2 linked regions of the Homo sapiens genome follow. The protein of the gene in region 1 interacts with the protein of each later gene in a pairwise test. Each region holds a gene or a part of one and is shown on either strand. Other genes may lie near its edges.

The links. Proteins that work in one complex are often made in the same cells at the same time.
Region 2: the proteins of SEC14L4 (region 1) and HAO2 interact in binary tests that used the Homo sapiens proteins (3 or more experiments, as listed by UniProt).

The regions. Positions count from the first base shown.
Region 1 is NC_000022.11:30,502,677-30,509,858, reverse strand, and holds the start of SEC14L4 (SEC14-like protein 4), read left to right. Parts: upstream 1-4,163; 5' UTR 4,164-4,247; coding exon 4,248-4,301; intron 4,302-6,106; coding exon 6,107-6,182; intron 6,183-7,182. UniProt on the Homo sapiens protein: Probable hydrophobic ligand-binding protein; may play a role in the transport of hydrophobic ligands like tocopherol, squalene and phospholipids.
Region 2 is NC_000001.11:119,364,583-119,371,790, reverse strand, and holds the start of HAO2 (2-Hydroxyacid oxidase 2), read right to left. Parts: upstream 3,007-7,208; 5' UTR 2,889-3,006; intron 2,846-2,888; exon of another isoform or gene 2,783-2,845; intron 1,708-2,782; exon of another isoform or gene 1,460-1,707; intron 1-1,459. UniProt on the Homo sapiens protein: Oxidase that catalyzes the oxidation of medium and long chain hydroxyacids such as 2-hydroxyhexadecanoate and 2-hydroxyoctanoate, to the correspondong 2-oxoacids.

The DNA of each region.
Region 1 (7,182 bases):
CAAATACTGACAAATGTCTTTTTTTTTTTTTTTTTGAGATGGAGTCTAGCTCTGTCGTCCAGGCTGGAGTGCAGTGGCATGATCTCAGCTCACTGCAACCTCTGCCTCCCAGGTTCAAGTGATTCTCCTGTCTCAGCCTCCCGAGTAGCTGGGATTATAGGCACCTACCACCATGCGCAGCTGATTTTTGTATTTTTCGTAGAGACGGGGTTTCACTGTGTTGGCCAGGCTGGTCTTGAACTCCTGATCTCCTGATCCGCCCGCCTCAGTCTCCCAAAGTTTGGGATTACAAGCGTGAGCCACAGCGCCCGACTCTGATAAATGTCTTAATTCTGTTTCTTGTTTAATAGATTTTTGTATTTTGTAGTCAAATCAATTCATTTTCCCTTTGTGATTCTGTCATTGTTTTTAAACACAGACCATGCCCTTCCAGAGATGTGGTGTCACTTTTACTTTCTTTTAGCATTTTTTATGATTTACTTTCTTTTTCTAAAAACATATTTTAAATCTCTATAGGGCAAACAATGTTCAAATTAAATATAATGCAAGTCATAAATGTGATCCATAAATGTAATTTTATTTTATTTATTATTATTATTATTTTTTGAGACCGAATCTCACTCTGTCACCCAGGCTGGAGTGCAGTGGCATGATCTCAGCTCACTGCAACCCCCGTCTCTGCCTCCTGGGTTCAAGTGATTCTCCTGTCTCAGCCTCCTGAGTAGCTGGGATTACATGCGCACAGCATCATGCCTGGCAAATTTTTGTGTTTTTAGTAGAGACGGGGTTTTACTATGTTACCCAGGCTGGTCTCAAACTGCTGGGCTCAAGCGATCCGCCCACCTCAGCCTCTCAAAGTGCTGGGATTACAGGTGTGAGCCACCATGCCCAGCCCATACGTGTAATTTTAAATCTTTCCAGTGGCTACTTTTTTTTTTTTGAGATGGAGTCTTGCTCTGTCTCCCAGGCTAGAATGTGATGGCGCAATCTCAGATCACCGGAACCTCCGCCTCCCGGGTTCAGTGATTCTCCTACCTCAGCCTCCCGAGTAGCTGGGATTACAGACGTGCACCACCATGCCCAGGTAATCTTTGTAGTTTTAGTAGAGACAGGGTTTCGCCGTGTTGGCCAGGCTGGTCTCAAACTCCTGACCTCAGGTGATCCACCCGCCTTAGCCTCCCAAAGTGCTGGGATTACAGACGTGAGCCACCACGCCCAGCCCCAGTGGCTACATTTTTTTTTTTTTTAAGTAAAAAGGATAGGTAGGAGCACAGAGGATTTTTAGGGCAGTGAAACTATTCTGCGTGATACCACAATGGTGGACACATGTCATTATACATTTGTCAAAACCCATAGAATATCCAACACCAAGAATGAGCCCTAATGTAAACTAGGAACTTTGGGTGATATTAGCGTGTCAGTGTAGGCTCATCAATTTCAGCAAATGGATATCTCTGGAACCAGAGGTTGTGTGTGTATGGGGACAGCAGATATGTGGGAACTCTGTACTTTCTGCCCAGTTTTGATGTGAACTTAAAACTGTCCTAAAAAATAACAATTTAGCTGGGCACTGTGGCTCATGCCTATAATCCCAGGACTTTGGGAGGCTGAGGCGGGAGGATCGCTTGAGCTCGGGAGTTTGAGACCAGCCTAGGCAGCATGGCAAAACCATGTTTTGTATTTTTCTTCAAAAAAATACAAAAATTAGCCGGATGTGGAGATGCACATCTGCAGTCCCTGCTACTGGGGAGGCTGAGGTGGGAGCACTGCTTGAGCTTCAGGGGTGGGGGGCGGTGGAGCTTGCAGTGAGCGGAGATTTTGCCACTGCACTCCAGCCTGGGTGACACATTGAGACCCTGTCTTAAAAAAAGAAAAAAAATTATCATTATAAATAATTCAAAATTATTAAAACATCAAAAGAAACAGGTGAAAGTAATATTAATAACATATTTTATTGTCCTATTATATTCAAAAATATCACTTAATATATAATCATTTATATAAAATTAATTAATGAGGCTAGGAGCAGTGGCACACGCTTGTAATACCAGCAATTTGGGAGGCTGAAGCAGATGGATGGCTTGAGCTCAGGAGTTTGAGACCAGCCTGGCTAACATAGCAAAACCCTGTGTCTATAAAAAAATAAAAATAAAAATAAAAATAAATTAGCCGGGTGTGGTGGGGTGAGAATGTAGTCCCAGCTACTCAGGAGGCTGAGGTGGGAGGATCACTTGAGCCCGTGAGGTCAAGGCTGCAGTGAGCCATGATTGCACCACTGCACTCCAACCTGGGTGACAGAGTGAGATGCTGTCTCAGTACATAAATAAATAAAATTAGTTAATGAAACATTTTACTTTTTCTGGTACTAAGCCATCAAAACTTGGTTTGTATTTTACAATTACAGCATGTCTCTATGCTTGTTATGACAAGCCACGTTGTCTGGGCTCAAAAGCCTCTGTGGCTCACGGCCACTGGGTTAGTCCTTTCGGGACTAGAGCTTGGTTTGATTCCATGGGAGGACAGAGGGAACAGGGTCTTGTGGCCTGTTTTACTCTCTCCTTCATCTTCACGTCCCCTCTACTCCTCTCTTGAAAATTCACACCCAGCCAACTTCTGTTTTCTTTTTTTGAGACAGAATCTGGCTCTGTCGCCCAGGCTGGAATGCAGTGGTGCCATCTTGGCTCATTGCACCCTCAACCTCCCAGGTTCAAGCAATTCTTGTGCCTCAGCCTCCTGAGTAGCTGGAACTACAGGCGTGGACGACCACACCCAGCTAATTTTTGTATTTTTAGTAGAGACAGGGTTTCACCATGTTGGCCAGGATGGTCTCAAACTCCTGACCTCAAGTGATCCGCCTGCCTTGGCCTCCCAAAGTGCCAGGTGCCAGGATTGCAAGCATGAGCCACCGCGCCTGGCTGAACTTTTTTCTTGCTTTTCCTAGTGATCTCCGCCTGGCTCTCTTGTGTCAGCCAGAGTGGCCTTTTGGCTCTCCGCCCACTCTGTCACTCTGCCCAGGGCTTCCATTGGTCCACGGCTGGCACCTTGCATGCCTCCACCTTCAGACTGTGGCTCTCACCCAGGAGCTCCGCACTTGGGACACCCTAGGATCTCCACCCCTGCAGCTCCCAGCTCTGGTGACAGCCTCAGTAATAACACAATTCTGAAATATATTCCTACCAGCCAGCACTTACTGAGCAGGCAACGCCAGACATTCTGCTGACCCAGGGTGCGTCCTCTTATCCTTCCAACCATCTTGAGGGCAGGAACCATTTTGCACATGAGGCTGTCCTATCAGTCAGTGAGCACTGACAGGTCCCAGGCTGTGTTCAAGGTCAGGGGAAGGAGCTTGGGGGTCATTAGACAAAAGCCCTGGGGGTCCTAGAGGGTTGAGCCAGGTTTATTAAAAATTCCTCCATGTTGGCCAGGTATGGTGGTTCACATCCCTAATCCCAGCACTTTGGGTGGCGGAGGTTGGAGGATTGCTTGAGGCCAGGAGGTCCAGACCAGCCTGGTCAGCATAGCAAAACCCGGTCTCTATTTTATTCAAAATAAGAAAAAGAAAAAAAAAATTTTTTTTTTTTTTGAGACGGAGTCTCACTCTGTCACCCAGGCTGGAGTGCAGTGGCGCGATCTCGGCTCACTGCAAGCTCCGCTTCCCGGGTTCACGCCATTCTCCTGCCTCAGCCTCCCGAGTAGCTGGGACTACAGGCGCCCGCCACCACGCCCAGCTAATTTTTTGTATTTTCAGTAGAGACGGGTTTTCACCATGTTAGCCAGGATGGTCTCGATCTCCTCCTGACCTCGTGATCCGCCCGCCTCGGCCTCCCAAAGTGCTGGGATTACAGGCGTGAGCCACCGCGCCTGGCCCAAAAAAAAAAAAACATTTAAAAAAAAATTTCCTCCATTTTGCTGGAAAGAGGATCTCAGTGTATTCCCTTTCCTGCCACCTGCGAACAGGCGGGAGCCCCCGCAGTAAGGAGGCCTGGAGGTGGCTGCCTCCAGCTGCCCCAGGCCACTCTCCCGGCAGGTCACCTCCCTGTCCCAAGTAGGGTGCGCTTGGTGACCGCAGCAAAAAATCCTGGAGAGGAGGAGAGAACTGGGCGGGGCGGGGCAGGCCCAGTGCCTCTCCCGTCGGGGCGGGACCAACATCTGGCCCAGGAGGCACAACCAGGCGGCAGCGGATACAAGGCCAGGCGGCGGCGGGCGGGCGGACCTGCGCCCTGAGCCTTTCTGCGCCCGCGGGCACCATGAGCAGCCGAGTCGGGGACCTGAGCCCCCAGCAGCAGGAAGCGCTGGCCAGGGTGAGGAGCATCGCGGGCTGGGAGGCTTGAGGAGGGGCCCTGAGCAGCCTGGCACTGCCCAACCCGGCTGGAGCCCCCATGGTACAGACTGGAACACCGAGCCTGGAGAGAGCGCCTCTGTTCTGCCCTCTGGTCCAGCGTGCGGTTGTTGAGGCGGCTACGTGCAGCACGCGGGACAGGGGCCCATCTCTGCGTGACCAGGAGCCGAATCCAGTCTTCTGACCTTGCGTGCTCTCCACCACCCGGCCCTGGTCCTTGTTCCCCGGTTGTGGGGGAGGGAGTGGCGCTGCCATCCGGCTGCGGGGGCAGCCTTGGGTAGACAGACTGCTTTTCATGTCCAGGTTGCAACATTTGTTTGTTTGGCTTCTCTTTGTGATTTGTTCTTAGGGCCCAAGCTTCTCTGTAATCTTTTTTTTTTTTTTTTTTGAGATGGAGTCTTGCTCTGTCGTCCAGGCTGGAGTGTAATGGCGCAATCTCGGTTCACTGCAACCTCCACCTCCTGAGTTCAAGCGATTCTCCTGCCTCAGCCTCCCAAGTAGCTGGGGCTACAGGTGCCCGCCACCACACCCGACTAATTTTTGTATTTTTAGTAGAGACGGGGTTTCACCATATTGGCCAGGCAGGTCTCTTGGACAGGCTGGTCTCGAACTCCTGACCTTGTGATCCATCCGCCTTGGCCTCCCAAAGTGCTGGGATTACAGGTGTGAGCCACTGCGCCCGGCCTCATATTTCTAATCCCAAATTTGGATTCACAGATTCACCTTCAAACCCAGCCTTTGCCTTCAGCTCTGTTGGTCCCCAGGGAAGTGAGATCTCCTCTCTCTCAGACGCAACAGATGCCCTGATAAGGCATTCCTGGCTTCTCTTTCAGCCCCTGTCTGTTGACCTCTGCCTCTGTTTTTTTTCCACAAAGCCTCCATTGTCCGGGGCATCAGGCAGTCCACGCTGGCTGAGTGCTCACATATATCTGACACCTGCTCGGAGCCAAGCCTGCTAAGTGTTTTACGTGCACAGACTCCTTTGATTGGTACAAGTTTATTTTTATCCCCATTTCAGAGATAAGGAAACTGAGGCTTAGAGAGGTTTGGTAACTTGCCTCTAAATCTAAACCCTCAAGATGCAGTATCAGGGACAACATTCCTAAAACCGCCTAGCTGGCCTGCATCAGACTCTCCCAGGGATCCTTGTAGAAATAAGGCTGTCAGTCGGGCATGGTGGCTCACGCCTGTGATCCCAGCACTTTGGGATACTAAGGCGGGTGGATTGTTTGAGCCAAGGAGTTTGAGACCAGCCTGGGCAACATAGCAAGATCCCATCTCTACAAAAAGTACAAAAATTAGCTGGGCATCTTGTGTGCCTGTGGTCCCAGCTACTTGGGAGTCTGAGCTGGGAGGATCTATTGAACCCGGGAGGCACGGGTTGCAGTGAGCCAAGATCACGCAACTACGCTCCAGCTTGGGCGATAGAGTGAGATCCTGTTTCAATAATAATAATAATAATAATAATAATATAAAAATAATAATAAAATAAAAATTAAAAATAAGGATGCCAGGGCCCCACCTTAGACATGTAGAATGGGAGTCCAGTGTGTAGGGCACTCCCAAATTTTGGGAAGGACCCAACTCTTTTTCCTATGTTGGGCTGGAGGGTGCCCTATTTTCAGATGGCAAAGTCGTTCAGGGCAGCACCCTGCATGGTCTTCTGGTGGAGTTGACTGGTGGATGATGTGGGAAGGGTTAGGGGCGGGGTTGGTGGCCCCCGAGGTCATGAGAGCTCCGCCGACCATCAGATCCTCCTCCGCTCAGTTCCGGGAGAACCTCCAGGACCTGCTGCCCATACTGCCCAATGCTGATGACTACTTCCTCCTGCGCTGGCTGCGAGGTGAGGCTTGCAGGGGTCAGGGGACGCAGAAAGGGAGGGAAGGAAGGAGGGTCTCAGGAGAGGAGTGGGAGACTTTGAGGGAATGGAGCTGTAGGGTAGTAAAGAACACAGGCTTGCCGGGCCCGGTGGCTCACACCTGTAATCCCAGCACTTTGGGAGGCCGAGGCAGGCAGATCACCTGAGGTCGGGAGTTCGAGACCAGCCTGACCAACATGGGGAAACCCTGTCTCTACTAAAAATACAAAATTAGCTGGCTTGGTGGCACATGCCTGTAATCTCAGCTACTCAGGAGGCTGAGGCAGGAGAATCGCTTGAACCCGGGAGGCAGAGGTTGCGGTAAGCCGAGATCCCGCCATTGCACTCCAGCCTGGGCATCAAGAGTGAAGCTCCGTCTCAAAAAAAAAAAAACAAAAAAACAAAAAACACAGGGTCTGGAATCAGCCTGCTCTGACTAGAATCTGAGCTCCCCTGTGTATGAGCACAGCACAAAACCCCACTGAGCCTCAGTTTCTTCATCTGTCAAGCAAGGATGAGGCAACAGGTGGGCACAGAGTCCAGGTGAGGTTACAGTTAACAGCCAGGACATCCTCAGGCCTCTGGCCTGGCCAGCCCTTGGGGCAGATGTTGCAGAGCACTGTTTTCAGTACTTGCCTTTGGGTGTACCTCCAGTTCCCCGAGGACAGGGCTCTGTTGTCCCCTAAAGGAACCGAGGTGCCCTAGTGCACTGAGCAGGTGCCCAGCAAACACTTAAGGAAGTGGATTTAGCGAATGCTAGAGAAGCAGTTTCTTCTAGGAATTACAGCAGCAGTCTAAAAAAATAATAACAAGCCAGATGCGATGGCTCACACTTATAGTCCCAGTGCTTTGGGAGGCTGAGGCAGGCAGATTTCTTGAGCTCAGGAGTTCAAGACCAGCCTGGGCAACATGGCGAAACCTCATCTCTACAAAAAATACAAAAATTAGCCGGGTGAGCTGCCGAGCACCTGTAATCCCAGCTACT
Region 2 (7,208 bases), on another chromosome or scaffold:
TTTTTCAAGTACTCCATGATGTACCATGCACTGTGTAAATTGCTTTACATGCATGACTGTTTTAATCCTTGTGGAAATGTTCAACACAAATATTATCATCCCCATTTCACGGGTGAGAAACCTGAAGTTCAAGAGGTTAAAATACTTTGTTCAATATTACATATCTAGTAATGTGTCACGATTCCAGTGGCCTGGCTCTTAAGCACTATAGAAAGAAGAAAATGGGCACAGCCAAGTGTGGTTTATGGAATGACAGAGTTGGCACGGACCTTAGAGGATTAAAATGTCATGGACATATGCAACTTTGCTTTCTTCCCTCAAAAAATCATAACTCAATCAGAAAGTTAAAAAAAATCTTAATTATTCAGCCAATCACTAAAAAATAACTTCTTATGTTTAAATCTGTCTTAACAGTCTACAGAGCACTCTTCTATACGTTATTCCATTTGGTGCTTACAACAATCCAGTGGGCAATCAGAGAGTGTATGTATGAGCCCCATGTTATAGATAAAAACATTAAAGCTCGGATAATTCACGTGAGTATCCAAGCTAATGCAACAGAAATGGCAAAGCCTGACCTGGAATCCTTCTGACTTGTTTCCAATGTCTTTGAGCCAGTATGGAGTGTTACTGGTATGGGGGAGACATTTAAGTCTCTGTTCTGAATGGTCAGAGAGTTGCATAAAATGAGCTTGGTCAATTCCCACAAAATCCAGGCCATTGGGAAAGGAGTTCTATGTGACACTGTGAGATCACTGCACCTGCCTCTTCATCTGCTCAACAAGGATAGAATGTGCAAAACAGACATCAGAATTCACACAAAGCTCCAAAACAGGCTCTGACGTCTACTCTGTCCACTAGTGACTTCAGGTCTTGCAGGTGTACCTATATCTCACAGTGGCAATCACTGGGTTGTAGCAGGAGAGAGAGGAGAAAAGGCAGAGCAGTTGGGGATGGAAGAGCCCAGCTATGGAGTGCAGTTTTTTCTCTCTTTGCCTTCCTCCTGGCTTCTCTGTCTACGGCAACTACCCAGACTGTGTTTCTGAAGGCCATTGCTTTCCACCGATCAACTGTGCCCAAGGAACTAATGACTGAGGGAGTCAGTGGAGTAGAGAAGACAGACTATATTATAAGCTTTGGCACTTGGCAAACATAGGCTGAAATCTCAGCTCTACTACTGGCTCACCACGGTTCTGTGCAAAATTTATTTGTTAAAGGAGAATATTAACATCCATCCCATAGGGCTGCCATGAGGACTAAGCAGTATGGCCCCTTTGAAATTTCTAGAACAGTGCCTTGTATAGACTAGATTGTTAATAAAGGCAGCTCCATGTTCATTATTCCTCCTGTTGATGACATGTGTGATTTCATCTGAGGCTCTGGAAGTGGAAAGCTGCTTCAGGATTTGAGTATTTCTGTCATAGTATAATTTAAACCCTCTGTCAGATTTACTCATTAGTTTATCCAAGAAGGTTTATTGACACACACTCTCAGCCAGGGTGGCGGAGGCATATACTGCTCCCCACATGCTTAACATTTCGCTGTTGCTTAAATACAGGCATGGCTCTGTGACTAGTTCTTCTGGCCAATGGCCTGGGAGTGGGAATAGCAGGTGTGAATTCTAGGCCAAGGATTGAAGAGCTGGTATGTGACCCTCCAGCTTTGTTTCCTCCTCTACAGCGATCCTCCATCCTCAAGAAGGCAAAGCTGTAAGAGAAAGGCCACTTGGATTCCCAAAACGCCATTTGGAAAAGGGTAGCCCTGGAGATCAGCTGATATTGTGTAAGGAAGAAATAAATATTTATGTGTTATCTCACTAAGTTGTTAAGGTTTATTCTTTACTATAACATAGCCTGATTTAACATAATATATCAAAGTATTATGCTAAACACTAGAGATATGGGGGGGGACCTTTATCACATCAGTTTCTGCTCTCAAGAAGCTTACAGTCGAAGAAGACAGACTTTCATAGCTCATCATTTGATAGCTGATACGATTTAGAGTACAACAGGAGTCCCTTTGAGGGGAGAGTTACCTGGGAATTTGGCAATATTCCCATTACCTCTCAAATGATATACCACAAGTGATGTTCCACTCAATCTATTCTAGACAAGCTCCAATTCTCATCTATCTTTAAATTAGGTTATTACTGTCTATCTCATAGGGATCTTGTGAGAATTGAAGGATCTTGTAAAATGCAGAATATAGTAGTAGTTAAGAATAAAAGTTTGCGGATTTTGCTTCCTGCTAATGGACGCTTTATTCTGTTCCATTGATCTGTTATCTATCTTTATACCAGTACCTCCCTGTCTTCATTAGCGTTCTTGGCAGTTCTCCGCAGGTTGATCTGTAGATTCAACTTAACACAATCAGAGGCTCTTCATTAGTGGGACTTTGTAACCCATTTGTTCCAAATAAGCTTATTGCTCAAAGGAACTACATTGTTTGAGACACATTAACTTCTTTACTTTTTTAGGAGCATAGCCATGTCACTGTTTTCTTTTGCTTGTGGCCGGGAAGCAGTGGTCAGAATACTAAATATATCCCTGAAGGCAATAGCAATACCTTTTAGGTTTTCAGAACGCTGTCAAGTGAAAACATTTTAACCCATTTTTCCTCCTATGGACACCCACGAATATTCCACCATACAATTCTAAGACTCAACTTCCTAGACTTAACCTTCTCTGTCTGTATCCTTTTTGAAACCAAATCTTCCTTTGCCCATGCCCTCTGAGTTCCCTAACACCTGTCTCCCTAGGACCATCTTTGCCAAGGTCCTTGCCTTGCAAACTCATAGTTGGCTTCCACGATATCTTCCATTCCCATCCTATCTGGCACTTCATCACCCTTCTCAGTTCCAAGCACACAGAACACACTCAATGACAAACCTTATTCTAATGTCTTCCAGTCCTCAGGGAAAGAAGTGTTTAGACGCAGCCACTCAAAGCCTGGCTCACTGCCGGAGGTGTTAGGAAACACACCACATCACTACCCACAGTTCAGGCTAAAGAAGAGGCTGAAGTCTCAAAGTTAATCTTTTAATGAAAACATCCAGCTTAGCAGTAAATAAGCAACTAGGCCAGAGCAAGGTTGACTTTGAAAGAATTTTGCTGACTTTGCAAATTTACTTCAAAATTAAGTGAAGTTTATTACAAAATTAAACTTCAAAGTGAAGTTGTAATTTCCTACCTGAAATCACCCATTCCCTACCTCTAAATTCAAACTTGATGTTGTCCTCTGCTCATCACAGATTGTTAGAGGTAGGGAGTGGATGATTTCAGGTAGGAAATTACAAAAGTCCCCGGGTTGGAGGAGGGGCTTTTTGTGGTGATGGGGTTGGGGTGGGAGAAGAGCAAGCACAGCCTGGGAGCCCATGGGCAGGACAGCAGTGGGGACCCAGGCCAGGACGGTCCGAGCTTTGGGGATTTTGGAGGGTGCATAGTGTAGAGCCCTCCCTGCCCACAGAACTGTTCTGGGGAAGTAATTATGTCTAGATTAATATGGGAGTCAGGGAGAACCAGTGAAATTTTTGAGTGGAAAATTATTCAGGAATGTAGAAGAAATGCTAGGAAAAGCAAACTTAAAAGTACATGGAAAAATAGAATTAATTTCTCCAGAAGAGTTCTGTAGGGGTCCCAGAAAGGTCACTAATTTGTCCAGGTCTGTTCGTCTCCACTCCTCCCCCAGCTCTTGCCACTGCTCCTTAGTATTGCCACAGCTCACGTGTGTGATGCGCTTACGACGTGCCAGACACACTACACGCATTACTTCATTTGATCTTCACGGAAGGTCAATCTTTTCAAGATTGTCTCTTTTTCAGAAGAGAAAATGAGATTAACGAACATGCCCAAAGCCTTTCAGCAGTAAAGAGCAGAATTGGGATTTGAACCTAGCCTGTAGCCAACACACGGAGCAGAGGAGGCCGAAATCCTGAGCTGTACCGATGACCATAGCAGTGGGGTTTGCCTTTCCTTTAGAACCTGTAGTTAGAGAGCAAAATGATGAATTTACCACTGACTTGTCATACCATCTCCACTCAAGGCTCATTGGCTATTTATTTGGAGGGTAATCCCTACCTGCTATCTAGCCACTAGAGGACAGTATTACCTCAAAAATGCTTTCAAAAGTAGCCAAAATCTGGGTTCTGGAAATTTCTTTTCCATAGCAATTTTCACAATCTCCATAATCAGCCTCTAGGCCATGTCCTCGGTCAGCTCTCACAACACCTGGCCTGCTCACAGTCCCCTGATCCAGACCCTCCCTTGCTGTTTTCCAGACTCCGACTCTGTCTCTCCCTTCCAGAAGGAAGCCTGGTGATGAGCACACACTGGAACATGGTGCTCAAGCTCCAAACTGCAGCCACTCACTCACTAACATCCACATGTTACTTAAATTCTCTGTGCCTCAGTTTCCTCATAATACCTCCCACACTGTAATGAGAAGTAAGTGAGTTAATACTTAAAAGATGCTGGCAGTAGATAGAAAGAACAGTAGAGCTTCTCATGAGAGATTCTCAAGTTTGAAATAATGACCTTCTTGGAGACCTTTTAAATCTGATGATTGCACTGAGTTAAAGAACATCATCTCTACAAGGTAACACACTCTAATATCAGCCTCTAATGTTTGCACCTAAGTGAACTAATCTCAAATAGGGGATATAGGGCCACAGGCAGAGCTATTTGAGGCAGCATTTTTGCAGCACCTCTTGAATTCCAGAGAATGGGTCCATGGATAAGACAGACCAGCTTTGGACCCACCAGCAGGCTTGGAGAATGTTTCAGGATGAGGTTATGAAAAGATATTGGTTTTATTCAGGTGGTCATAGGGTACCCATTGAGCAATATGCCTGCTTATTTTGGATGAAGAGAAATGTCGGGTCATTCTTGAGCTGTCATGACCTAGTCTCTTAGAAAGCAAATGTAGTTTCACAGTAGAATAGAATGCCAAAATTCTTCTTAATGGAGGGGATTAAAAACATGCTAAGTCCTCCTGATCACTGTGGTCCTGTCCTAATCCAGCCATCTATTTTTCCTGAGGTAATTCTGGAAGTCAGGATGAGCCCAGGACTTTGCAGTCTGTGCTCAAGCCCATCAGGGTTAAAGATGAACACTTTGGTGCTGTGGTCAGGTTAATATTAGGTTGGTGCAAAAGTAACCGTGGTTTTGCTATTGAAAGTAATTAATGCAAACTTGGGTCATTGCAAACTGAAGCCAAACCAGTCATAGATGGCTAAGTCAAACTAAAGACAGTTTGCGTATTTCTGCAGCCACCAAGCCCCTTATAGGCTGTGAACCTCTTTGTAATGGCTACCCGGTGGATGGGGGCAGCTCTGCAGAGTCAGTTACTGGAAGAGATGGGAAGAAAACCTGAAAGAGAGCCTGCTGAAGACCTTAGTCCAAGGCCAATGACTTCTGTCATAGGGCTGCATTGTTTGTGTTCGCTTTATAGGGTCTAAAGTAGGAAGGAAGTGTGTCCCTCTAGCTGCTGAGCTTGCTACATAGATCAGATCTGACTGGAGGAAGCGGGGTTTCTGGATGTGAAGATGAGTTAGGTAGCTAGAGCTGGGATTGTACACCTTCCCAAGATCATGGAGAAAGTCAGTTGCTGGGCACAGGAAAAACAATCAGGATTTCAGAATCTGCTGGGTATCCGGGGTTGAGGACATGGGTGCCTATGTGTGAAATGCTGTGGGATCCACTGTCAACAGCCTGTTGATGTGAGAGTCCCTGGCATCTTGGAGACAGTGTGTATTCTTCAAGGCATTTATGTTGATCCAGGATCAAACACAACTTACTGTGAGTTAGGTGGCTTCAGCAGGAGAGAAAGTTTCTTCTACTCAGAAAGCAACAATGTGCTCCCTAAAGTCACCTAATATTGTAACATCCTCTGTGCTCAGACACTCAGCACCCTGTGCCGAGCAATGATAAGGCATGTAAACGGCCTAGCATTGCCCTTAGTACCAATAAATGCTCAAGAAATGGTTGCATTATTTTCAATAATAGTAATTAATAACACTTACAGAGCATTTACTATGTGCCAAGCAGTGTATTAAGGGTTTAGCAGTTCTTCACTCATTAGGTGGGGATCATTTTTATCTCTGTTTTACAGATATGGAGGTGGAGGCCAGGCATTCCGGAATTCAAAGCCAGGCATTCTGGCCCCAGAGTCCACATTTAACTATTGTGCTTTTAATTAATACTGCAAAGAGTTGCCAATAGGAGACCAGAGGAGGGCAAGATGGCTTCTGGCTAGGGTGACCAGGGAACACTGCCAGAATGACAGATATTTCAGCTGGCCCTTTCACATAAATTGAACTATATTTTCTTCTACTAGCCCTAGTCCTTGGGTCTGAAACTGAGCCCACAGGTCCTGCTGTTACATGAACTGGGGTATGGGTATATAGCCAAGGCCTCAGGCCTGCTGAACCAAGAGTTTATTCAGCAGGGAGTGGGAAGCCAGTAGTTAAGCTGGTAAGGAACTCTTCAAGACTCTCTGAGTCTTCAAGAAAGTTCTAACAGCCCACTGGGGGACTTTTGCCTCTGCCTACATCAAAACACATTTTTTAAAAAGCTTCTGCTTTGTACTTGCTGTTCCTTCATTCTGGAACATACTAATCATTCCTCATCCTTAGGACTCAGTTGATGTGTTTCTCCATCCATGAAACCTTCCTCAGTGCCACTGGGCAGAGCTGGCTGTGTGTGTGTGTGTGTGTGTGTGTGTGTGTGTGAGAGAGAGAGAGAGAGAGAGAGAGAGAGAGGGAGAAACTTGTCACACGGTATTGCGGCTTGTCATTACAGTGTGGCTTTTTCAGGACTTTGAGTTCCTTGAGGCCAGGAGCCATGTTGTATTCATTCTTGAATCCCACTGCCCGGCCCAGAGCCTGGTACATAGTAGGTGCATGATGATTGTTTATTGTGGAATTAGAGAACAGATTTTAAAACTTGAATTCTCAAAGAAGGAGGGGCAGGATGCAGTCAGCATTACTCATTCCCATCTCTGCCCAGTCTCACCCTGCTCTCTCTGCTTTCTACCATGGTCTCCTCTGGAAGGGTATGGCCAACTTAATGCAAAGGTCAGGGCATCTTTGGTTCTTGGACTGATGTTTACATTTTTGAACTCTCAAGGACGTTGACATATCCAGCAGCTGAACTCCAAGTGAGCACACCAGCTTATGTTGGTACAATCAGCTTCACTGGGGGTAGCTTTAT